4 linked regions of the Homo sapiens genome follow. The protein of the gene in region 3 purifies or fractionates together with the protein of the main gene of each other region. This does not show direct contact. Each region holds a gene or a part of one and is shown on either strand. Other genes may lie near its edges.

What was found.
Region 1: the proteins of RELT (region 3) and STK39 purify together in Homo sapiens (affinity purification with mass spectrometry; 4 studies listed by BioGRID and IntAct, with this or other methods). This does not show direct contact.
Region 2: the proteins of RELT (region 3) and OXSR1 purify together in Homo sapiens (affinity purification with mass spectrometry; 4 studies listed by BioGRID and IntAct, with this or other methods). This does not show direct contact.
Region 4: the proteins of RELT (region 3) and ACOT7 purify together in Homo sapiens (affinity purification with mass spectrometry; 3 studies listed by BioGRID and IntAct, with this or other methods). This does not show direct contact.

What each region holds. Positions count from the first base shown.
Region 1 is NC_000002.12:167,953,491-167,957,595, forward strand, and holds the end of STK39 (STE20/SPS1-related proline-alanine-rich protein kinase), read right to left. Parts: exon of another isoform or gene 2,087-4,105; intron 2,081-2,086; coding exon 2,006-2,080; 3' UTR 532-2,005; downstream 1-531. UniProt on the Homo sapiens protein: Effector serine/threonine-protein kinase component of the WNK-SPAK/OSR1 kinase cascade, which is involved in various processes, such as ion transport, response to hypertonic stress and blood pressure.
Region 2 is NC_000003.12:38,161,573-38,168,547, reverse strand, and holds the start of OXSR1 (serine/threonine-protein kinase OSR1), read right to left. Parts: upstream 3,012-6,975; 5' UTR 2,672-3,011; coding exon 2,602-2,671; intron 1-2,601. UniProt on the Homo sapiens protein: Effector serine/threonine-protein kinase component of the WNK-SPAK/OSR1 kinase cascade, which is involved in various processes, such as ion transport, response to hypertonic stress and blood pressure.
Region 3 is NC_000011.10:73,372,066-73,379,408, reverse strand, and holds the start of RELT (tumor necrosis factor receptor superfamily member 19L isoform 1 precursor), read right to left. Parts: upstream 3,011-7,343; 5' UTR 2,910-3,010; intron 2,742-2,909; exon of another isoform or gene 2,540-2,741; intron 1-2,539. UniProt on the Homo sapiens protein: May play a role in apoptosis. Induces activation of MAPK14/p38 and MAPK8/JNK MAPK cascades, when overexpressed. Involved in dental enamel formation.
Region 4 is NC_000001.11:6,390,740-6,398,379, forward strand, and holds the start of ACOT7 (cytosolic acyl coenzyme A thioester hydrolase), read right to left. Parts: upstream 3,029-7,640; 5' UTR 2,661-3,028; coding exon 2,518-2,660; intron 1-2,517. UniProt on the Homo sapiens protein: Catalyzes the hydrolysis of acyl-CoAs into free fatty acids and coenzyme A (CoASH), regulating their respective intracellular levels.

The sequences.
Region 1 (4,105 bases), on a different chromosome or scaffold from region 3:
TTTGATTAGTCTCCATGTTGCAAAGTCCTCCAGTTATTCATGTACATTTTATCCTCTTAGTAGAAGATAAGGGTCTTGTCTTTTCACCCACAAGTTGTACAGAAGAGTGTAAAGAACATGCTCTGAATGTCAGGAAGTGAGGATCCTGGGAGTTTAGCTCTGCAAGTAGTCCTGTAAAGGGCCTTGGACAAGTCATTCAACCACTCTGAGCCTCAGGGACTAACAGCATTAAAATGAATGAAGTGGTTGGAAGGAATCATTCTCTCTTGTCCCCTATAGCCCTATAGGGGTTTTAATTCGAAGACCATCTGTCTATATGGAGTAGAAATGTTTGCCTTTCATTCTCTCCTCATGCTAATTCAAGTTACTTGTCAAACCCAGTTCTCTGTACTGGATGCATGATGCCTCCTCACTCTGCCTCTAGGGCACTTTCACTAGTTAACTCTTACTAGGCATTTTATGAAAGTGCTAAATGCCATTGCAGTAATGCAGATGATATCTAAAGGAGGAAAGAAACAATGCAAAACAATCTCATTGTGCAATACACTTTTATTTTCCTTTTACCTTTGCAGTCATCTTCGAGTAATCGTTGTGTAAACAATAGAATGGAATGAAATTACATTAAATTGTATGCAAATGGCTCTAGAACACCTTAACAATTATGACAAGGCAATTATAAATAACTTTTTTTCCTTAGTAATATATATTTGCTTTTTGAAGTACATTAAAGAGCTGCCATATCTAGGGTTAGCTAGGAAAGAGCAATGGTACCATCCTGGGAGCCCACCTCCTTGAAAGATTAGACTCCAATTTTCAAAATCCTAAGGTTTACTAGTTCCATAATATACAGTCAAGCAGAGGGCTACTTGGGTTGAAAGTATTGATTCTTGAACCTTAACAGCGTTTTACCTTTTAGTCATTGCACAAAACCCTTCCAATTTTCACTCCACCTGGGTATTCTGCAAAATTTCAAGTAAAACTCAGATTCTGATATTTTCAAGTTTATCACCTTTAGAATAACAAATCCTATCACTTAAGGAGAGCCAAATCAGAGATGGGTATATAGTTAGCAATCTAACAGAATGGCAACATTTTACATAGCATTCTAAACGGTCCAATGAAGCAAAACTTAACATATGCCACCTTATATAGAGGAAATTTTAGATCTGAGACTATTCCAGAGTAAAGCAGCCTCAGGCACATTCTTAATGTGAAAGTTTGCAAGGCACCTCCCTCTCCCAAGAGACAGTCAGATTGTAAATTGGTTTTTAGGCAAACAGACTAAAAGAATAAGCATCCAAATTCCTAATTCAGTCATTTCAAAATTTAGAAGTTACAAATACTCCAAAGACAGACCCAAAACTTTTTGTTTAAATAACGAGATTAACTGCAAGAAGCATATAATCAAAACCCTTTTTTTCTTATAGCTAAGGTGTGTAATGCATAAATATATGAAAAATAAAATTCACAGTCAGTTTTAAAACTAGAATTCAAGTTTGGCTAATAAATCTTAATTTTATAAGTATATTAATTTCTAAATACAACATAAAAGAGGCAGTATTGTCAGATGTACAATTAAAGTATTATAACAGAAATAACAACAATGAAAGGAGAAATAGGCTTCTGGATAGAAAATTCCTTTTGTTGCCAATAAATAAGACCACCTGAGTGTATTTCAGATTCTTTTCACTTAAGGGATATCCAAATTGATTGCTAAGAATATTAAATAGCTTTTGGAAAAATGAGCAACAGTCGTGCAGCTGTGGCATTTGCTTGTTCTTGTACTGTGGATTGCTAGAGAATAAAGCAGAACTCGGAGTGTTGTAAGTTTTAAAAAATTATTTTTTTATCCCATTTTGTTGAAGCCGGCCTCTTCACAATCTTCTGATTTTGCTAGGAAATGGGAGTGAGGGGGTGGGAGGAAATGGGCAGAAAGAGGGAGGGTTGAAGGGAGTAGGGGTGGCGGTGGGGCATGACAGATCAGGGTGACATCAAGGGACATACATCAGCTGACACTCAACTGAGCAAACCCAATCAGCTTCACTTCATCAGGAATCTCCGACCCATCACAGCCAGAAGCCTGAAAAGGGAAAAAGAAAGCCTCAATGCTGGTTTGCTGCTGCTGCTGGTTGTTAAAGTCTTGTTCCTATGATGGCAGATCTAAGCAAAGGCACAGTTGGTATGGGACCATGTGTCCCATTTCTTCCAGAAGAGAGACGCCAGCCACTCTCTCGAATGACTACTGGAAGCTAAGTGCTGTCAGCACTGTGGCCATCATGCTATGAAGTACAGAACAGAGGTGGGAAGGGATTTGTTATCCATTAAAATACCATGCCCAGGCTGGAAGCTTTGGAACAGTCAGTGAAACACCCCTGCTAAGAAACCACAAACAAATTTTTCAAAAACTAAATAAAATTATTTTAAATATACTTTCTAACTAAATCACCTTAGTAATCATTCTGAGAACAACATGAAAATAAGCAGAAGAGATCTAACAGGTCACCCAGGAGTAATTTAGTTTTTACCAAACTCATTTCTTCTATGAAACTTGCCAGGAAAAAGTCATCACCAAGTACTGCGATGGGCTCATTAGAGAGAACTGCTATATAAATACCAGTGAATAAGTTTTACAGGGAAAGGTATTATAACAATTCTTTTCTATAAAAGAATTTTGTTTATATTTTCAGACATATTAATTGCCTAAAATTGGCAAAAATTATGGTGTGTCAAATACTTTATTTTTCTTACTTCAGAATCAGACAGAACTGGAAAAAAGCCATTGCCTTGGCCAGGCATGGCGGCTCACGCCTGTAATCCCAGCACTTTGGGGGGCCGAGGCAGGTGGATCATGAGGTCAGGAGATCGAGACCATCCTGGCCAACATGGTGAAACCCCGTCTCTACTAAAATACAAAAAATTAGCCAGGTTTGGTGGCACACACCTGTAGTGCCAGCTACTTGGGAGGCTGAGGGCTGAGGCAGGGGAATCACTTGAACCGGGGAGGCAGAGGTTGCAGTGAGCCGAGATCGTGCCACTGCACTCCAGCCTGGCGACAGAGCGAGACTCCACCTCAGAAAAAAAAAAAAAAGGAAGCCATTTCCCTTCAAACCTCTCACTGGTCCTAATTAATAAGTTATTTCGTTTTTCTTGTGACCTCTCCCCCTTGCTTGCTTTTAGACACACACACACACACACACACACACACACTCTCTCTCTCTCTCTCTCTCTCTCTCTCTCTCCCCCCCCGCCCCCTCAGATCCACCATTCTAAGCTGCCTCTCATCCTATAGTACATAAATCAGAATTGGACATTACATAAGAACAACAAGGAAGGGAGAAAAAAGTATGATGAATGACTGGGAATGGGCAATTAATTACCAAAGGATCATACAAACCTTTTCAGAGCCTAATTCCTGCTAAATTATTGTCACAACAATTAGTTTCCCATGGAAACGTGCCCTTTCCAATCACCACAATTAAGCTGCATAGCACTGCTTGTATACATTTAGAATATGTACTATACTGTTTTTTGAACTGTACTGTTCATAGTGTACTGTTTTTTGAACTGTTCAAAAAAACAGTACAGAAAACCAGCATCAACTCTAGCATTTTCTATTAAATAATCAGCTAACTATAATGTTTGTACCTTGAATATTTTCAAATGATTATCTTTAAAATAACATCCTATGTAAGTAGTTATGCTTATGTAAAAAAGTCACTAGCCTAAAGGATAAAAATATTAATCAGTATTTAAAGAAAGGAATTTACTTTGTACCTATCCAGTGATATCTCTGGTTTCATCTGACAGATAAAGATGTTCAGAGAAGTAAAATTGTCATTGTTTGTGTTGACAGGGGCGATGAGGTCTGAAATGCTCTTCTCCTTATCACTTTCAACAAAGTAGTACAGGCATAGAGGGCATTTTGGCTGAGGTATTTCTGGTGGTGTCACACTGACACTGTAATATTCACCTTCCCTATCCATTTTCTCCTTGTGTTATCACTGTTTCTTTATCTACCTTCCTAAATCATCCCTTCTCTCTCATGTGTAGCTCTTGTTAACATCATTTACTCAACCCACTGAATAATGGCAGACAACCTGTGTAA
Region 2 (6,975 bases), on a different chromosome or scaffold from region 3:
AGGTAAATCTTATGGTACGTAAATTATATCTCAAAATTGTTTTTTTAAATGAAAAAATATTTATGCTAAGTGGAAGAAACCAAACATGAAAGACCACATGTTATATGATCCCATTTATATAAATGTCCAAAAAAGGCAAGTCCATAGAGACAAAAAGTAGATTTGTGGTTGTCTAAGGCTGGAGGTGGAAAAAGGGATTAACTCGTAAGAAAGCACAAGAGATCTCACGGGGATGATGGAAATATTCTAAAACTGGATTATGGTGATAGTTGTACGACACAGGGAATTTACTAAAAACCACTAAATGTTACACTTAAAATGGGTGAATTTTATATTAAATTATACCTCAGTAAAGTTGTTTTAAATCTATGAAAGATGGTCAAATCACATTGGAGTTCCTAACCTTTTAAAAACCATGGACCACTTTGTGAATGTGAGGAACACTAACCCTATCCAGAAGACTGAGAGACTCCCTTTTGCCCACTCACAGACATCCTATGGGTCTGAGGACACCAAATTAACAAATCACGAAATCTCTAGCGCCTTTGCAACTCTGAAATTCTCTGCCACCTTAACAGCAAAGGCTTTGAGAATGACTACAACCATCCTCTTCACCCTAGAAAGATGGATACACTACCAGAAAAAAAAAAAAAAAACTCTTCTTTTAAAATGATGATAGGGAACCTCCTCTTTACTTCTCTGACATCATTTTGGAATCTTCCATTTAATCCTTTCCTTCAATATGAAACTCTGACTGGGGGAACCAGAAGCAATCAGTCCAGACCGGGAACTAGCTGTCTTTAGAACCAACGAATACATGTCAAAGACCCAATATGTAGCAAGGACACAGGCCCATGAAGTGGCTTAAGCAAAGATGTGATGTCTTTATTTAGTCCGAGTTGTTTTGTTTTGTTTTTGTTTTTCCTATACGAACCAATATTGCTTTAAGCCCAGATTGTCTTAAAACAAGAGGCAAGTAAAAACAAAAATTATTTCACGAAGTTCTTTTTAAACCCACAGTGAAATAAACACTGACACCCCCAAGGCAGCTAGGAAGTCTTCAGTTGGTCTTTGTTATAAAACTAATTTTAGGGCAGGATGCTGGCAAAGCAGATAATTCGCCTTCCTCCAATACACAGGTGTCTGCTCATGTCCGTTGGATTGAGCCTGTATAGCTAAACATTTTGATTTCCAAGGTCACTGGGTTATTGTTGTCCAACAAATACTCCCCTCATCCCCAGTCCCCAGCCTCCTCCCAATCCCTAGGCTTCTGTGAGAATTACAATCTATGTGCAAGTTTTGGTCTCTGCCAACTGGTATTCCTGGACCCCCTTCAAATCTTTTCACACACCAGCCCAATTTATCGGATCACGTCAAGGCACTATTTGAGGGCCTCCAGTGATACTTAAAATTCCAAAATCTGTACCAAAGCTGAGAAGATCCCTAAGATCTGGCTCCTCCCTTCCCTCTCTATCCTTGCCAGCCTTCCTTCAGGTCCTAAAACAAATCAAGCTCTTCCCTTACTCAAGGCCACTGCATCTCTATATCCCTCTGTAAGGAAAAATCTTCCCGAGGCTCTTAATCCTCACTTCTCATGCTTCAGGGCTCAACTGAAATGTTATCGCCTCAGAAAAAGAATTTTCCTTGAAATCACCCTAAGTAGATCTCCAGGTTATTCTCTATCAGAACATCTTGTTTATCTCCTTCATGGCACTTGCCAAAGCCTCTTCAAATTTTTTTTTTTTTTTTTTTTTTTTTGAGTCAGAGTCAGGGTTTGTCGCCCAGGCTGGAGTGCAGTGGCGCGATCTCAGCTCACTGCAAGCTCCGCCTCCCGGGTTCAAGGATTCTTCTGCCTCAGCCTCCCGAGTAGCTGGGATTACAGGCGCGCACCACCACACCCAACTAATTTTTGTATTTTTAGTAGAGACGGGGTTTCACCATATTGGCCAGGCTGGTCTCGAACCCCCGACCTCGTGATCCGCCCGCCTCGGCCTCCCAAAGTGGTGGGATTACAGGCGTGAGCCACCACGCCCAGCCCTTCTTACTTCTTTTTGTCTTCTTATTTAATGTCTACCTCCCCGACTGGAAAGTCAGTTGGAAGGAGTCGTAAGTTGGGTCTCGGTTGCTCAGCGCGGTTCCTGCAGCTTCACCTGGAGGATCCCCAGTTCGCCCCAGCACGGATGGAGGAAAAACTTAAAGCTCCCTATCTATCCCACAATCCCAGAAATCGATGGCTGTGCCCACTTCAAGATCCCATTTCTCACACAGCCTCGGAAAGGCCTGTCCCACACCTGCACTTTCTTTCTCTACAAGACACATGGGCCGCTCCTGTCCACACATTTGAGAATCCTGTACACAAATCTCTCCTGAGCCCCCTCAAGCCTCACCCCACCCCACGCCACCTCACAGGCGCGCGCCTCAAAACCCCCTTCCCGTCTCACACGCGCTCCTCGACACAAGCGTCCTACAAGCCCCCAGCCCCACAAGCGCCCCACGAATTCCTATGAGGGCTGCGCTCCCCGAGCTCCCGCGGCTCCCCACGTTCCCGTGTCCCCCGCCTCCCAGCGCCGCGCCTCCCCCCTCCGCAGCGCCTGCTCTCACCGATCACCTCCTGCAGCTCGTAATCGTCCCTGTTGATGGACCAGGGCAGGGCGCTCGAGTCCTCGGACATGACGGCGGCAGCGGCTCGCGGTCCTCCCTCAAACTCGCTGACCTCGCTCGTCTCCTCGCCGCGCGTCTCCCCACCCCCAACAGCCGCCGCCGCCGCCGCCGCGCCCCCACCAATCGTCTCGGAACAGCCACGGGTCGGACGGCGCCGGGGCGCGGGGTCACCGCGCGGCAGAGCAGCGGGGGCTCAGAGCTCCGGCGGACCTCGCCTCCTGCTCCTCCGAGTCCGGCACTGCCCGGCCCAGCCCACGTCCTGTCCTCGGCCTCCGCAGCAGCAGCGACAGAAGCTTTGCCTGGGCCCAGCCCCTCTGTCCCGCCCTCCACCCCAGCCCCACGCACGGGCCAAACTTTCCCCTCTTCCTCCACCTGCCGACACGCAGCGCGCTGACGTCACTGCGCTGGTCACGCCCCACCTCGGGCCCGCCTCCGGCCGCCATCTCCAGTGTGGCTGGATGTAAAGTGAGCAAGCTAGAAACCCGAGAAGGTAGGAGTTCGCGGTGAAAGGGAAGAAGTGCTTAGGTAGAGGTTCATCGAAGGCATCGAAAAGCCGTAGGAGAGCCTCAAGTAGCACAGAGGCAGTAGCCACACTAAGCATGGCGACCAAAGGGCAGCAAAGTAGAAGGGGCAGAGCCACTTCTAGCGCCTGGGGCACGCTGCTGTCTCCGTCGTCGCATTCATTGGTTTGTTTGAGAAGGAATCAGAAAAGCAATGGGTGTGGGTAGACGTCAGTCATAAATTGGTCCCGCCTCCAGGCTCTTAGCGCGCTTCTCCGTGTTAGGGCTGCAGCCCTTCAAGAGCTCCGTTACCGCGCTCGTCTTACCACTTCCTCTGGAGTGACGTCACGGCGTAACCGTCACACCCTCGAGACGTGCGAAAGGCTCTACAGGGTGTGGAGAAACCCTGAGGGAGCGGCTGGGTGGGGTAGCCTTTGGGTGTGGACCACTGCCAACTAGGATAAAAGGCCTTGGGCCACTGGTCGGAGTGAAACTGGAAGTTTGCCTGGTGACATTTTTTTCAAGGCGGACGTTCTCTCTAACGCTTGTCGCGGCGCTGTCTCTCGCGGGTCCACCCTGCACTGGGCGGGTTCTGTCCATTCGCAGCTTTAGATCTGAAGCTCAAATAAGCACCTGCCTTGAGGGACTCGGGAGGTTGTCTTTCTTCCCCCCGGACAGGGCTTGGGGTATTAAACAAGTGAGATCGACCCACGGATTTGGGGGTTGTCTCACGGGCGTTGGCTTTTGTCGCCCCCACTGAACAGTTTTCTCAGTTTGACTACGTACGGCCGTTAGAGAAATTAGCGAGCTGAAGACTGAACACGCTTGGTAAATTGGATTTTAAAAAATAATGAGCATCCAACAGGGATAGGGCTAGGTGCGAAACTGTTCTAGGTTGGACACCTTTCAGTCCAACGGCAGTCTTTAAGGAAGAGACCTTAGGCCGGGTGCGGTGGCTCACGCCTGTAATCCCAACACTTTGGGAGGCGGAGGCGGGCGGACCACCTGAGGTCAGGAGTTCGAGACCATCCTGACCAACATGGTGAAACTCCCTCTCTACTAAAATACAGAAAAATCGCTGGGCGTGGTGGCTGGCGCCTGTAATCCCAGCTACTAGGGAGGCTGAAGCAGGAGGCGAAGGTTGCAGTGACCCGAGAGCATGCCACTGCACTCCAGTCTGGGCAACAGACGGAGACACCGTCTCAGAAAAAGGAAGAGACCTTCACCTAGGCCCAGCTGAGACGGAGCAGGGACCCCTTTTAGGGCCTGCAGGCCCTCAACCATGGAAATAAAGGAAAATCTTGAGTTACTTCAAGAGAAATTCCCGGCACTTAGCTAGCCTTGAAAAGTTAATGAACCCCTTGATAAGCAAGAGGGCAGTAATAACTTTAAACATTAGCCAAAGAAACTAAAATAACTGGATGTTTGGTTCCCTATAAAAACTAAAGATAACATCAACACATGTCCCTGAGTTGTTTTTTAGAAACCCAGACCCCCACCAAATGGATCTGCTGGCACATAGACCTCAGAGAATGGGGAGCTAAGGACTGAACTCTGACTGGTGGTTTGTTTTTTCTCTAAGTTTCTTCTTCCTGAAGAAGGTCATGCCCACAAGCTGTAGCTAACATTCTTTTCTACTGATCCGAAATTTTTAGACAAAGCTTCACCTCTTTTATCAATCGCAAATCAGAAAATCTTTGAATCCACCTATGACCTGTGGGCTCCTGCTTGGAGATGTCCCCCCTTTTTAGGTCAAACCAATGTATAACCTCTGTGTATTGATTTATGACTTTACCTGTAACTTCTTCTTTTCCGAAATTACCCCTATCTTTAAGAATGCTTGGCTGGGCGCGGTGGCTCACGCCAGGAAGTTTAGGTCCCCAGTATGTATTTCATAAGTTTATGAAATATGTATTATATATAATGTATATTTATATATATATTAAGCTTGAGCTACACTAATTCTCCCCTCTTGCTAGGCGCCCTGCCTTTCTACTGCAGCAAAACCTCCGTGTGGCAATCTAATGTCACTGCACTGGGCAAGTAGACCTTAGTTTGGTTCTAAAACACCGCCAAGCACTGGAAGCTCTGCGCTGAGCTCTGCTGTGGGAGGTCCAACTGACCATGAAACCAGTCAACTAGAAGCTACTAGCGGGTTTCCACCTAGTTGGTTGGATTGGAGAACGTTTCATGAAGAAGGTAGCATTTGTACCAGATCTTGCAAAGTTAACATGATTTCAACAGGTGCACATTTAGAGGATAGAATAGTCCAGGCTCAGCAAAGGTGCCGCAGTTCCAGAAAGCATAGCACAGGCCTTGCTGTAAGTGGTTTTCAGCCATTACTACTGACAGTTTCTTTACCATATGTTCTGCCTTTTTCTTTTTGCAGGGAGGAGAGGGATGGGGATCAAATGTATCAGAAAGGAGCTAAATCTGATGGTAAGAATTAGCCTCAAGGTTTGTACCAATAGAAAGGTCTACAAACCAGAAATTCTTGGCTTGGGGTTGTTGAGTTGTATGACCCATGGACATACTTCAGTTTTGTTTTTGTTTTGTTTTGTTTTATTTTGTTTTGTTTTTTTCTCCCTGGCACGGTGACTCAAACCTGCAATCCCAGCATTTTGGGAGGCCCAGGCAGGTGGATCACCTGAGGTCAGGAGTTCGAGACCAGCCTGGCCAACAGGGTAAAATCCCATCTCTACTAAAAATACAAAAATTAGCCACGCGTGGTGGCTGGCGCCTGTAATCCCAGCTACTCAGGAGGTTGAGGCAGGAGAATCGCTTGAACCCAGGAGGCAGAGGTTGTAGTGAGCCAAGATCATGCCACTGCACTCCAGCCTTAGCGACAGAGAGTGAGACTCCATCTCAAAAAAGAAAAAAAGAAATTATATATGTATTATATATGAAATATAGACAATATGTATGAAGTATATATACTATATATAAATATATATGAAATATGAAATATATAACATATATGAAACAACATGAAATCTATAATATATATGAAATATATAACATGAAATCTATAATATATATGAAATCTATAATATATATGAAATCTATAATATATGAAATATATAATATATATGAAATATATAATATATGAAATCTATAATATATGAAATATATAATATATATGAAATCTATAATATATGAAATATATAATATATATGAAATCTATAATATATGAAATATATAATATATATGAAATCTATAATATATGAAATATACATAATATATGAAATATATTATGTATATGAAATATACATAATATATGAAATATGTATATGAAATATACATAATATATGAAATATGTATATGAAATTACATAATATATGAAATATGTATATGAAATATACATAATATATGAAATATGTATATGAAATATACATAATATATGAAATATGTATATGAAATATACATAATATATGAAATATGTATATGAAATATACATAATATATGACATATGTATATGAAATATACATAATATATGACATATGTATATGAAATATACATAATATATGACATATGTATATGAAATATACATAATATATGACATATGTATATGAAATATACATAATATATGACATATGTATATGAAATATACATAATATATGACATATGTATATGAAATATACATAATATATGACATATGTATATGAAATATACATAATATATGACATATGTATATGAAATATACATAATATATGACATGTATATGAAATATACATAATATATGACATATGTATATGAAATATACATAATATATGACATATGTATATGAAATATACATAATATATGACATGTATAT
Region 3 (7,343 bases):
ACTGTGGTCACAAGTGGAAACCCAGCCTGGCCCCACTGTCATCCCCAGAGGCCCAAGTTCCCAGAAAGGTTTGGCTTGGCCAGGGCACAGGCTGAGGCTGGGGGCCTCCTTTAAGGCTGGGATAAGGAGAAGTTAACCCTTCTCCTCTTGCTCCCCCTCCCAGGCCCTAAGCTATTTCCACCTCTTTGTTGAGGATGGAAATAACTCCGGCTCAGCCCCTAGAGACCACGACAGCTATTTTCATCAGCCCCAAGAAGCACAGCTCCAGTCATTGCAGAGAGGACCGAGGGACACCCTGATCCCCAGTTCCAGTTCTTGGCCAAGTGGCAACAGTGGTCAGAGCCAAAAGGGGTCTCTGGGAAGAACAGGGAGACCGAGGCCCAGAGAGAGTAGGGACCAGCTCAAGGTCACTCCCTGTCTGCTCCCCACCATAACATGCAGGTGGATTTGGGGAAATGCCTCTAGAGCAACTGCAAAGGGGAGGGGGCCTCTCAAGTATGATGAAGGTCACCTGGGACTCTCAATTTTCCCTGCTACCCCTAGGCTGTGCTGCTAACTCCATACACTCTTCAAAGCCATGGGGACACCCCCAAAGCCAGGTCCAGGCTCTAGAAGGCAGGGGACAGGACTTTCTGGTGATGTCTGGTTGGGAGTGAAGTCTGGGGAGGAACAGGAAGACCATGTAACCCACCCATCCCCAGTGTTCCAGACATGTGTGCACACACACACATCATACTTAGAACTCACAATGTAATGCCCTGGCTAGGCCACGCCTACTAGCCCAAGTTTGAGAGACAGAAGTCCAGGAAAGCCATGAGCAGTTATTAGGAAGGTGGGTGATCCTCTCTCCCAGCATCTCACTGGTCTCTGGGGTCAGAAGACCTGAATTCCAGTCCTGGCACTGTCCTGACTCTGTATGACCTTGGCCAAGTCACTTTGCTTCTCTGATCCTCAGTTCCTTTCTCTGAAACACAGTCACTACATCTCAGAATCACTGCGAAGATTCAACAAGACAGAACACCATGAAGTGTTCAGAACAGTGCCTGACACTGTCCCCCACCCTGTCCCCCACCCCTAGAATGTAATCAGCATTTTCAGAGGACGACAGCAGAAGACAGAACTTCCAGATTCTACAGCAAGTGCCACCCTCTCCTAGACTAGGGAGCTCAGCTTCCACCCCACCCTGCATGAACCCCACAGACCTTCATACGGGAGAAGGGGCCTCAGAAGGGTCTTGCCCAGATGGCGAAAGGGTACCGCTCCAGCTCTCCAGCAAGAACTTAGCCTCCCAGACCAGAGACCACTCCTGGGGAACAAGTCTCTCCCCACTCTCCCCCAACCCAAGGAACTGAAGAAAGGACACCCAGGCAGAGAAGTGAATGTCTATGGATTTGGGGATCCATATTGTCTATGGATCCATTTCGTGACAGAGGACCAGGAAGCCTTTGGGTGGGAGGCTAACGTTTCCTTGACCAGTTTTGGAGAAGGCTGTGCTTCCAACCCTATCAGTAGCCCCTGAGTGCAGCCCCTGGGCCGCTGTGTCCCCAGGAGAAGCCTGCCCCCACCCCCCACTGCAGTCTTTCTGCCTGAAGGGAAGGGAGAACACAGGCAGTTGACCCAAAACAATAGAGGATCCCAAAGTGATGATTCACAGTCCATTCAAAGCCCAGCACCTCAGTGTGCAGATGGGGAGACTGAGGCCTGCGCGGGGGAGGGGGGCGGGGGGGTCTGAGAACAAGATTGTGTCCGGGTCCGCTGAGAATACAGATTACACAGGGGCAGAACTTTGCCAGGTGTAGGGACTTCGATGCGTGAGTGTGTGGATGCAGGTGGGCGGGGGGAAGCTGAGACTACCACAGGGCCCCTACCCTGCTGCCATCTGGGCCACCCCACCAGATGTTGCCCAGCCTCGGCTTTCTCCCTCAGCCAGGGCCTATCCCTCAGGGTCCATCTCCTCACCAAGCTGAACTCCTGAGGGGTGCCCTCGTGGGGACAGTCCTGGAGACCCTTGTCTCCTGGCTCCCCAACTTCCTCATCGCCCCACATCTGCCGGAAGGTGTCCTAGGTCCGGTCCCTCCTCCTCCTGCCTCTTACTCATCATCACCCTAGGCGCAGACACACACACACACACACACACACTGACACCACTTGACCCCACACGCACACCATGGCGCCAGCGAGCTCGGCTCGTTCTCAGTCACTTGGGCTCCTCTCCCTCTATTTCACACTCACAGTAACGGGTGGCCCTGGCCCTGCGCCGGTCACGCCCCAAGCCACGCACTTCGTGACCCCAGTGACCCCGGGTCTTTCCCTCACACAACACACGCACACACGCTGCCTGTCTCCCACACACAGAGCCCCTCTGTGTCGCCCGCTCGGCCCGGCGTCACCGCCCAGTGTCCCAGCCACACGTTCGCCCGGCCAGGCCGCCTCACGCGCCGTGTCACCCACAGTCACGGGCTGACACCATCCAGACCCCCCCTTGGCCGCCCCGCGCCGCAGCCGCGCCGAGGCGCCGCCGTCCAGCCCGCACCACAACCTGGTCTCGGTCCAAGTTTCCCGGGCCGGGGACCGCTCCGGGCCCCGCCGGCCCCTCACACCGCAAGTTCCGCTGCTTCCCCGCGCGCCCCCCGACAGCCACCACGCAGGGCCGGCCCGGAGTCGCGGCCGGAGGACCTGCAGGTCACGGGGCTCGGAGACTGGCGGTGGCCGGTGCGCGGAAGGCGCCGGGACAGGACGCGAGGCGGGAGGAGTGGGGTGGGGGGGCGCGCGGCCGGGCTGCCGCATCCGCCGAGCCCGCGAACTTCCTCAGAGACACGGGGAGGCAGGGGGCGCCACTAGGGTCCGTATCCCGCTGGCCCGGCCGCGGAGAGCAGACTCTGGATGGGCGCTCCGCGCGCCCTCCTTACCTGGCTGCGCCGCGGCAGCTCCAGCTCGGCTCCCCGTTCGACTCGGCGCCGCGGCCCGGCTCGGCGAGCGCCCGGACAGCCGCGCAGCCTGCGCGCCTTTTGAATGAATCGCCGGCTGGGCCGGGAAGGTGCGCAGACCCGCCCCCGCGCGTCACGGCCGCTCCGCCCCCGACGTCAGAGCGCGGTCTGCGCCCCGCGCCCGACTCACCCCGAGCCGCGGAGGGGCTCGCCGCTCTGCCGCTGGGCGGTGCTGCTCTACGTCGCCCTCTCTCGCGCCCCTGGGAACTGCAGGGGGCTGCGCGGGACTGGGCGGCGGTGCCCAGAGGGCCTCTTGTATCCGCCTCTTCAAGGCTCTGAACCAAGCAAGGAGTTGTGCGAAGCAAGATAAAGAGACTGGAGACTGAGATACTCCTCTGGGTCCTCTCAGCATTGCCAGTGTAACTAGAGCCACCTCTGCCCCTTTCTGGGCTTCATCTTCCTCCTGCCAGTTGGTGGCCAGGAAGAATAACCTCACTTTGCTTTGTTGACGAGGCCCAGGCCCAACCCTGGAAACCCTCACCTAGTTGGCGAAAAGGCCTGGTGAAGGTGAGTCTATAAAGGAAGCCCACACGGTGGGCTTCGGCACATCCTTCAAGGCCTAGTGAAATCCTCCAGGAGGCGTCTCCTGCCTCCACTCCCCTACTCCCCGCACCACTTCTCTGTGCCAGGGTAGTTAGTTTCCCTCCAGCAGGACAGGTGACTCAGTGCCCCCCTCCCTACTACAGCCATCCCACCCTGCCAGTTTCCAATGCCAGTCATCACAAACTCCAGGCAGTATTCACACTGTATTCCGACTCCGAATCGTGTCCCCTGGAGTTGTGCTACAGGGTGTGCCAGGACTGGAGGGAGCAGCTCAGTGGCCCGTTCCCCCTCTCAGTACTATTCAGGGGATCTCAGGCGGTCCTCCTGGGACAGTAGGGCTGATGGGAGACTGAGACACCAGGGAGGACCTAGTGCTGGGCCAGAGGCCTGGCTGGGGTCAGGATAATCACAGCCCATGACAGAGATGGAGAAAGGAAGGTAAATAAGTCAGCTGGGGATAGATGGCTGGGGGTGGGGTTCTAAACAGTCATAGAATCTGAACCCAGGGGCTAGGAGACGGAAAAGGTCAGGTCCCCAGGGTCCAGGAGATTCCAGGAGGCGAACTGGACACCGCATGGGGAGGGGAGCAGGGGATGAGTTTTCATTTCCCTGGGTCATGCTCAGGTTGTGGGGGAAGGGCATAAGGAGCTACAGGTCATTGATGTCAGGATCATGACATCAGCACCCTCATATGTCAATGGAGACCTCCAGGGCTGGGGCAGGGGTTCTTCCAGGGTCCCACATCCCAGCCTACGGAAGGCCAGAGCATCCAGAATGCCTCCACTCCTGGAAATGTTTTCTTTGTAAGGGGACCATCTACACCCCAGCTCTAGGTTCTAGAGTTCAAATGGTGGCAATTTCAGGTGTCGTCACTCAATAAACCAAATGGGGAAGGCCAGGTGTAGTGGTCACACCTGTAATCCTAGCACCTTGGGAGGCTGAGTTGGGAGGATCACTTAGCCCAGGAGTTCGAGACCAGCCTGGGCAACATGATGAAGCCCAGTCTCTACAAAAATATGTGGGAGAATCACTTGAGCCCAGGAAGTTGAGACTGCAGTGAGCCGCGATCGTGCCACTGCACTCCAGCCTAGGTGAGAGAGTGAGACCTTGTCTCAATCAATAAACTAAATGGGGAAATGCTTTTTGGAGCACTGGCTATTAATCAGACATCCCAGAGAGGGTCCAGGCCCCTCTCTACCACCAGCTCTCTGTGAGGTTTTCATCAAATCCACCCCCAACTCAGTTTCCTCATCTGAAAACTGGGGTGCCAGACATGTTGCCTGAAGTTCTCTGTGGGAGGCGGCTACCTGGCTGCCCTGGCAGCAGCTCCATAGAGTAGGTCTCCTGGGGCCACAGCCCAAACACTTCTCGCTCCTGCAACCCCCAGGTTAGGAGGGAGCCTAATTATTATTTACTGCTGGGTGGATGCGCCAGCTCCTCCTGCAGCCAGCTCTGACCCTGAAACCACTGTGACGTGGGCTCCTCCCTGAGAGTCTACCAGCATCTGGGTTGCTCCACAGTGAGTAGACAGGGAAGGAGTTGTGGAAGCCACAGGAAAGATTTAGACTCGCTTTTTATGGAGCTTGGGGAACCACAGGCTTGAGAACAAAGGACTCTCAGAATCACAGGCTTTATAAAATCCTGGCATCTCAACTGAACCCATGGAGTCAGCACTGGAATCCCTGAGCTCAGGGACCTCAGAGACCATCTTGTTGAACTTCACATGGTACAGCTGGGCAAGTGGGCCCAGAGAATGTGTGCACCTCATTGTAGGTACACAGCACAAGGTCCCAGTAAACTGGGACGAGCTGTGATGGGGACCTGGAGGCAGGGGTACAGGTGCCATGCCCCAGCCAGGCCCTGCCTGGGGTGGGGATCCTGGGTCACAGAATCAGAGCCACCACAGTGTGGCTGTATGCAGGGGTCTGAGTAGATGACTGCCTTGGAGTCATGGACCAAAGGTAGTGGGTGCCACTCTGCTTGCTGGCTGTGCTAGAATTCCAAAAGGAAGTACATACAGTACAAGCCTGGAGGAACAGCAGGCTCATACTTAAATTTCAATGCTCCAGGCCAGGCGCGGTGGCTCACGCCTGTAATCCCAGCACTTTGAGAGGCCGAGGTGGGCGGATCACCTGAGGTCAGGAGTTGTAAACCAGCCTGGCCAACATGGTGAAACCCCATCTCTACTAAAAATACAAAGAAAAAAAAATTAGCCAGGTGCGGTGGTGGGCGCCTATAATCCTACCTATTTGGGAGGCTGAGGCAGGAGAACTGCTTGAACCCGGGAGGTGGAGGTTGCAGTGAGCCAAGATTGTGCCATCGCACTCCAGTCTGGGCTACAGAGCGAGACTGCGTCTCAAAAAAAAAAAAATAAAATTCAATGCTCCATCCTAGGCTAACCCCCAGCGGGCCAAGTCCTAACCCTAAGAAGGTGGGCTGCTGTCCTGTGTTTGTGTCTTAGCTCCAGGGGAGGGTGGGCTCAGTCTGAGGGGAAACTGAGGCTAGGAGGCCAGGATAGGGCTCAGCCTGGGGCCAGGCCAGAAGCTGAGCTGGGGCTGTCTGGGTCTGAGGACCAGGTTCAACCTGCATTTAGGTCCAGACCCTGGCCTGGGTCTGGAATCCCACTGGGGTGGAGGTGTCAAGTCTTTGGTGACTGCCTCACTGGCTCCCTCATGGGAGGCCCAGCACTCTCAGTTCCATCCATCCCAGGTTCTATTGCCCACCTGACTGGTGCTCAGGGAGGCAAGTGTAGGGTTTTCTTGTTCCCATGGTGAGTCTGAGAGAGGAACCCAGAGCCATGAACTGCAGACAATGGGGCTGGTGGGGACCCTGGGGACTGTCAGGGTGAGACTTGCAGTCCAGTTACCCTCTGGGCCCAGAACATGAGCAGGTCAAGAGCTAGGGAGTGTGAGCCAAGCCCAGGGAGGCAGGTGGCTTGCTGAAGCATCTGAGATTAAGGAGCCTGGAGAAGAGAAATCTAGGGGAAAATGGAAGAATATATGCTTTGGTGTCACATGGATAGTGGTTAAGTCCCACTTCTGCCATTGCCAGGCTGTGTGACCTTAGGCAAGTGACTTCACCTCTCTGAGAACTCGCCCATCCAAGCGTGTTATGAGGATCTGCTGAGACCTCATATCGGGGGCACCAGCTTCTTCCAGGACGCTGGGCTCAGGAGCTCTCTCTCCTCTCCCTTCCCTTGGTGCACTGTTTGCCCTGGGCAGCAGGGGCTCTGCCCGATTTATCCCTGATGCCTGCTCACTATCTCCCTCCCCAGTCCAGCCCAGCAAACTACCTCTGACCCAGCTTGGGATGCCAGCTCACTTGCCTTTGCCAGGCAGGACTCCTCATTGGCTATAATTGGGCCTAAAATAGACTTCCCCTTGCCGTTTCCTGCAACCTGGCCTGTGGCTTAAGGTCTGTGAGGACACAGACTTGGTGTTTGGCAGGCATGCAGAAGATGTAAAGGGCTCACAGAGGTCATCCAGGTCTATGGAGGGACAGACACTCGCCTGGCATCACACAGTGCCGAGAGCCTGGGCTGGAGCTTGAGTTCAAGCCCTGGGGTCCCCCATGCCCTCCCCAGGCCCTGCCCAGAAGGTTTAAGGTAAGGCCTTAGCCAGACTTGCTCCCTCCAAGCCCTCTGGACCAGCCCAGTGCTGAGGCTGGTTTGAGGTGTGTGACGGGGCCCCTGGAGGCCAGCTCGTCTAGCCTTCTGCCTCCCCTGGCTTTAAGGGTCATTTCCTGGCTTTTCTGACCACAGGAAACCTTCCTGCCTGGGCTCTCCTCCCCAGCTACCCCCAGCCTCAATGTTGC
Region 4 (7,640 bases), on a different chromosome or scaffold from region 3:
AGCCTGGCCAACATGGTGAAACCCCGTCTCTACTAAAAATACAAAAATTAGCCAGACATGATGGCGGGTACCTATAATCCCAGCAACTCAGGAGGCTGAGGTGGAAGAATCGCTTGAACCCAGGAGGCAGAGGTTGCAGTGAGCTGAGATCGTGCCATTGCATTCCAGTCTGGGTGACAGAGCGAGACTGTCTCAAAAACAAACAAACAAACAAACAAAAAGCACACACTTACTGTATGGAAGTGTCTAAAGCTATACAAAAATCTAGTAACTAGGCTAGGAGCAGTGGCTCACGCCTGTAATCCCAGCACTTTGAGAGGCTGAGGCGGGAGGATCACCTGAGGTCAGGAGTTCAAGACCAGCCTGGCCAACATGATGAAACCCCATCTCTACTAAAAATACAAAAATTAGCTGGGCGTGGTGGCGCACGCCTGTAGTCCCAGCTACTCAGGAGGCTGAGGCACAAGAACTTTTTCCAGCTGGGTGCGGTGGTTCACACCTGTAATCCCAGCACTTTGGGAGGCCGAGGAGGGCAGATCACAGATCACCTGAGGTCAGGAGTTCGAGACCAGCCTGGCCAACATGGAGAAACCCCATCTCTACTAAAAACACAAAAATTAGCCAGGCGTGGTGGCGCACTCTTGTAGTCCCAGCTACTCGGGAGGCTGAGGCCCAAGAATCACTTGAGCCCAGGAGGCAGGGGTTGCAGTGAGCTGAGATCGGGCCACTGCACTCCAGCCCGGGTGACAGAGTGAGACTCTGTCTCAAAAAACAAAAAATCTAGTAACTGTTAGAAGCTGGGTGAAAAAAGACAACATGTATAAATTGGCTATTCACCACCCTGAAGAAGTAAATAAAAGGCCAGCCTTCCACGGGAAGATTTAAATCAAGGTTTCCTTTATTCAGGAGAGGGGTGGGAAGAATACTGGATCTGGAGTCAGAAGACTTGGGCAGGGGCTGTCCCTGGATCTCCTGGAGCAGGATGACCTTACACAGTTACTCAACTCCCAAAACTGCCATTTCCTCCTCCACACAGGTAAGGGTGGCACTACCGACCATCAACCTCCCAGGGAATTGGGCAAACCAAGTGGGATGAGACAGGTATAAGCTCTTTGCAAACCATGGAGCCCAAGTTTCCCAGCCAATACTCAGCAGAGCTGATTCAGGAACCTGATGCAGGCTGTCTGTCTCCAGTTATTTCCTTTTTTTTTTTTGCCCCGCTTTCCCCACCTCCAGAGTCGATGGGACCAGAACAGCCACAGAGCCAAAGTCAAAGGGGCAGGGCTCCCCCAAAGACGTTCCCCCTCTGGAAAAGTCAAAACCGACCTTGAGGTAAGGAGAGGCCCTCGACCAGGCCAGAAGATGAGACTGAGAGTCAAGAATCGCCATAGACCCAGGACTTGCTATATGCCCAGCCTTCCTGGAGATGTCAACATCTACAGGAAAGTAACTTGCTTCTATTGGACTTGGCTTGAGCCCAAGGTCAGTCTGTGATGCCCAACCCCCAAATGTGAGGAACCCACTACCAAAACAGAAAGCAGCTCTCACTCCTGGTAGTTCATCAAGCAGGATAGGACCGGTCGCAGGCCACAGAGCCTGTGTGCAGTGGCTGAAAACCTAGACTCCTTGTCCTCACTTAGCTCATGCACAAATGCCAGCCTGCTGCTTCCGATTCTGCCGAAGAGAACTGCAGAGTAACCTTCAGGCTGCCCTCCCCACCTCCTATGGGAAATGAGCTTGTTCATGATCTCCAGCCTCCAGCTTCCTCTGGGGGCCTGCATCTATCTACTCAGTACCTGGTGGAAGAAGAGGGGGTGCTCTAGAAGGACAACCCTTTGCCTCTATTGTGTAAGATGCTTTCAGGCCCAACAGACCACTGATTCCCTTTTCTTCATAGTAAACTGTTAGAGGTAGACAGTATTATCTGTTCTTCCTTTCAACACCTGCCCTCCCCCAAACCGAAGCAGTGCACTGAAGACGGTAGCTCTGCAACCTCCTCCCACAGGGGCACCCACCGAGGGGCTCGCGCGGCTCTGGGCACCTCCCCTCCACCTCTGGGGGCTTTGGTTAGCGCAGCACAACCGCCGAGGTAATGATCCCGAATCCTCGAGGAGGCTAAGCAGGACCACGGGGCTGAGGCTCCGGGATGCTCGGGCGAGGCCCGAGGCGGGGCGGCCCACGGGCGCCGGTCGCCGGGCTCTGGAGCTGTGCATTGACCTCCGCCCGCCCCGTCCCTGCCTGGCTTTCTCGCCCAAACGGCCCGTGGCGCGGCCGCCGCCCTGGAGATGCGGCCAGGAGGAGCCGGCTGGAGGCGGGCGGGGGCCGCCCGGCTTGTGCGGCATCGCGAGTCGCATCCCGGCCGGGCGGGCGTCCGGGGCGGCGGCGCGGAAGGCCGTGCGGGGAATCGGCGGGCGGGGGCGGCCTCGGCGGGTGGGGACCACAGAGCCAAGCGGGGCAGGCCTGGGGCGGTGACCGGCGCGCCTGGCCGCTGCAGGCTGCGCGCGGGCCCTCTCTTACCGGCAGATCTGGATGGCGGACGGCGTCTCGACGTCTGGGCCCGACATGCTGGGGGCTGCGGCGGCGGATGCGGCGGGCGGCTGCAGAAGGGCGCAGGTGTCTGGCAGGCCCGGCGCGGAATGAATGAGCCCGGGCCGCGCCATAAAGGGGGAGGGCAGAGGTGGAGCGATGGGGCTGGTGAGGCGGGGCCTGCGCGCCGGGGGCAATCGAACGCGGCCTCCCCGCGCCGACCCCGCCCCCGCGCCGGCCCCACCCCGAGCCCCGCCTCCCAGGCCGCCAAGGCTGCAGAGAGCTCGCGCGGGCGTACGATTCTGGCGGCGTGGGGGCCCAGGCAGCCGCCGCTTCCAGAAGGTTCGGTGGCGGTTGGGCCGCGCCGGTGCGGGGAAGGCCCGCTAGCCGCGGCAGCCGCGCCCGACCCGGTGGCAGCCCCGAGGGAAGCGTCTGGGGCGGCCTAAGTGGCGGAGCAGGGCGGACTTGGGCCCTCACTCTCCGCGCGGCGGTAAATATTTGTGCTGGGCGTTCCCGGCCGCCCGCGCCGCCGATTCGCTGCCGCGCCCAGTGCCTGGGCGGCCGGATGAGGTCAGAGCGGAAGGCGCGGCCCGGGCTCCTGGCAGTGGGGCCTGATTCCCACCCCCGCCCCCAACCCACCCCGGCACCAGTCGCCCGCATCGCGGCTCTCGCTAAGATCGGCCCTAAGAGAGAATGGAAGGCTGTTTCCTAGAAAGGAGCATTGGTGGCGGCTGCTGGGAAGACACGGGGAATGGAACGGGCCTTTGCTTCCGCAGCACAAAGCGTCACGAGGTGGGGAGGAGGAAAGGCCGGCGACTATCTACACCGCCGCCTGCAGCTTTTACTGGGAGCGCTGAGCGCCAGCCTGGAGGTGCACGTGTTGCAGTGAGGAGCCCTGAAACATGCGTGTTTTACTGCACAAGATGTGCCCTTGAATGGAGTCTAGGCCAGTCGGGGTCACCAAAAAAAATCCACCAAAAAACACCCAAGAAGGGAGAAGCGGTCACCCCCCACGTGCTGGAATGACAGCTTTTTACTTGCTAGGCAGTTGGACCTTTTCCGAATTTTCTACAATGCACATAGATTTGTACTTACATCTTTAAATTAAAACCCACGCAACTCCGGCTCCCTAGTGCAATTTGAACAACCCATTTACACTCAGCTAGGTAGCTCTGAAGGAACTGTGCCTCACCCCGGTCACCCTTGAGTTACCAGACCGTGGAGGCAGCCCACAGCATGATCTGTAGCTCCCAGAAGCAGGGGCAGTCAAAGTCAGAACTCTGTGATTTCAAGACTTTTATACTAAGAATTTTGTTTTTCTGTTTTCTTTTTTTTTTTTTTTTTTTGAGACGGAGTCTTGCTCTGTTGCCCAGGCTGGAGTGCAGTGGTGCAATCTCAGCTCACTGCAAGCTCCGCCTCCCAGGTTCACGCCATTCTCCTGCCTCAGCCTCCCAAGTAGCTGGGACTACAGGCGCCTGCCACCACGCCCGGCTAATTTTTTGTATTTTTAGTAGAGACGGGGTTTCACTGTGTTAGCCAGGATGGTCTTGATCTCCTGACCTTGTGATCTGCCCGCCTCTGCCTCCCAAAGTGGTGGGATTACAGGCGTGAGCCACCACGCCTGGCCTGTTTTCTTTTTTTGATATAGAGTCTCGTTCTGTCGCCCAGGCTGGAATGCAGTGGTGTGATAGCTCACTGTAACCTCTGCCATCCAGTTTCAAGCAATTCTCCTGCCTCAACCACACTGAGTAGCTGGGACCATAGGCATGCACCACCACGTTTGGCTTATTTTTGTATTTTTAGTACAGATGTGTCCAGAATTGGTGGGTTCTTGGTCTCACCGACTTCAAGAATGAAGCCGCGGACCCTCGTGGTGAGTGTTACAGCTCTTAAGGTGGCGCATCTGGAGTTTCTTCCTTCTGGTGGGTTCGTGGTCTCCCTGGCTCAGGAGTGAAGCTGCAGACCTTCACAGTGAATGTTAACGGCTCATAAAGGCAGTGTGGACCCAAAGAGCGAAAGAACAACACTCCTACAGCGTGGAAGGGGACCAGAGTGGGTTGCCACTGCTGGCTCGGGCAGCCTGCTTTTATTCTCTCATCTAGCCCTACCCACATCCTGCTGATTGGTAGAGCAGAGTGGTCTGTTTTGACAGGGTGCTGATTGGTGTGTTTACAATCCCTGAGCTAGACACAAAGGTTCTCCATGTCCCCACCAGATTAGCTAGATAGAGTGTCGACACAAAGGTTCTCCAAGTCCCCACCAGCGTAGTTAGATACAGAGTGTTGATTGGTGCATTCACAAACCCTGAGCTAGACACAGGGTGCTGATTGGTGTGTTTACAAACCTTGAGCTAGATACAGAGTGCCGATTGGTGTATTTACAATCCCTTAGCTAGACATAAAGGTTCTCCATGTCCCCACCAGACTCAGGAGCCCAGCTGGCTTCACCCAGTGGGTCCCGCACTGGGGCTGCAGGTGGAGCTGCCTGCTAGTCCCGCACTGTGTGCCCACACTCCTCAGCCCTTGGGTGGTCGATGGCACTGGGTGCCGTGGAGCAGGGGGCGGTGCTCATTGGGGAGGCTCGGGCCGCACAGGAGCCCATGGAGTGGGGGGAGGCTCAGGCATGGCGGGCTGCGGGTCCCGAGCCCTGCCCCGGGGGAAGGCAGCTAAGGCCCTGCGAGAAATTGAGCACAGCAGCTGCTGACCCAGGTGCTAAGCCCCTCACTGCCCGGGGCCGGCGGGGACGGCCGCGGCTCCGAGTGCGAGGCCCGCCGAGCCCACGCCCACCTGGAACTCGCCCTGGCCCGCAAGCACCGCTCGCAGCTCCGGTTCCGCCCACGACTCTCCCTCCACACCACACCGCAAGCTGAGGGAGCCGGGTCCGGCCTTGGCCAGCCCAGAAAGGGGCTCCCACAGTGCAGCGGCAGGCTGAAGGGCTCCTCAAGTGCCGCCAAAGTGGGAGCCCAGGCAGAGGAGGCGCTGAGAGCGAGCGAGAGCTGTGAGGACTGCCAGCATGCTGTCACCTCTCACAGATAGGGTTTCACCATGTTGGCCAAGCTGGTCTTGAACTCCTGACCTCAGGTGATCCACCCACCCCAGCCTCCCAAAGTGCTGGGATTACAGGCCTGAGCCACCTCGTCCGGACGCAGACTTTTGTTTTTTAGTGAGAATTAAGTTGATGCAAGCATCAAGGGCCCCCAAGCCTGTTCAAACACCACCTCTTCCCAATTGAATCCTGAAATGGTTGGAAGCAGTAACTAGATTTAGAGCCTCAGGCAAGGTAGTTTCCTTTTTTTTTTTTTTTTTTTTTTTAAATCTTTTGAGACAGAGTCTTGGCTCTGTCACCCAGGCTGGAGTACAGTGGCACAATCCCTGCTCACTGCAGCTTCTGCCTCCAGAGCTCAAGCAGCCCTCCCACCTCAGCCTCCTGAGTAGCTGGAGCCACAGGCATGTGCCACCATGCTCAGCTAATTTTTGTACTTTTCTGTATAGAAGGAGCCTCACCACATTGCCCAAGCTGGTCTTGAACTCCTGGGCTCAAGTGATCCACCTGCCTTAGCCTCTCAAAGTGCTATGATTACAGGTGTGCATCACTGTTCCCAGCCTGGCAGTTTCTTTACCTATGATATGGGGGTGATAAATACTTTCCTGACCGTTGTGAGGACTACTTGGCAGGCTGAGGTAGGGCCTTTCTTCCTCTTCCCTCCTCAAACCTTCTGTTTCTCTATACTGCTCTTCCCCCAGCTATGAGTGCAGCAAGAATTTACTAAGACCCCATGCTCCCTGTATAGGTGTGCTTGCTCCTCTGAGCATTACAGACACTTCATTGTTCAAAATCTTCTAAATCTGCCTGGCATGGGGGCTTGCACCCATAATCCCAGGAGGCTGAGGCAAGAGGATCCCCTGAACCTAGGAGTTTGAGGCTGCAGTGCCCTCTGATGGCTCCTGTAAACAGCCACTGCACTCCAGCCTGGGCAACATAGACTCTGTCTCTTAAAAAAAAAAAAAGTTCAAATGCTGCTTGGGACACAAATCAGGGACACAAAAAGCCAGATTCCAGCCACACACTGAACCAGAGGGAATCTTAGACAAGGATGGGCCAAGTGGTTTAGAATGAAATAGCCTGGGCCCTCCAGAGTGAGGCCAAAAAGTGATCTGGAACAGTTCCTATACTTTTGGGAAAGGGTGTGGCTACCCTTCCACCTGAGACAGCATCTGTCCCTCCTGCTCACATCACTACCCCGAAGGTGGTAGAGGGACCCAGAAAAGATAACAGCTCAGCCCAGAGATTATCATGTACCCATTCTGCACTGTAGAAAGAAAATAGTGCTCCAGATTACTACTTATGATGTTGCCCTGTTTTTAAGGATGGCAATGGGGGCGCCCAATTCCTCAGCAAAAACCTTGTGAATGATTTTGGCCATAGTGCTAATGGATTTACACTGATTTTGCACCTTCCACAGTCTCACCTTCTCGTGTTAGGCTATTTTCTACTTGCTCCTCAAGCTATGGGCCATTTCTATCCCTGCTTTCAGCAAAACATCTCAAAAGAGCTGCTTACACACACACCCTCTCCCCTCACCTCCCATCCTCCTTTGAACCTGTTCCAGTTTGGTTTTTGATTCTACCAGTCAATCTATCAAGGTCACTAATTCCTTCCAAGTTGCTAAATCCGATAATCTGTTGTCAGAAGTCATTTTCCTTGACCTCTCAACGGCATTGAGCAGATGTGACCTCCCTATCCTGGAAGCGCTCCTCCCTCACGTCCGTCTTCCTCCCTCGCTGGCCACTGCTCAGCCTGCTCTGCTGGCACTGCCTCCCTGCCTCCTGTCAGAACTTTAGACAAGCCCCAAGCAGTGCTTGAACTCTTGAGGTCTCATTCTGTCTCATCACTTTTTTTTTTTTTTCCTTCAGACAGGGTTTCATTCTGTCACCCAGGCTGGAGCACAGTGGTGCAATCACAACTCACTGCAGCCTCGACCTCCTGGGCTCACATGATCCTCCCACATCAGCCTCCTGAGTAGCTGAGACCACAGGCACACACCACCATGCCCGGCTATTTTTTGTATTTCTTTATAGAGTCTGGTCAGGCTGGTCTCGAACTCCTGGGCTCAA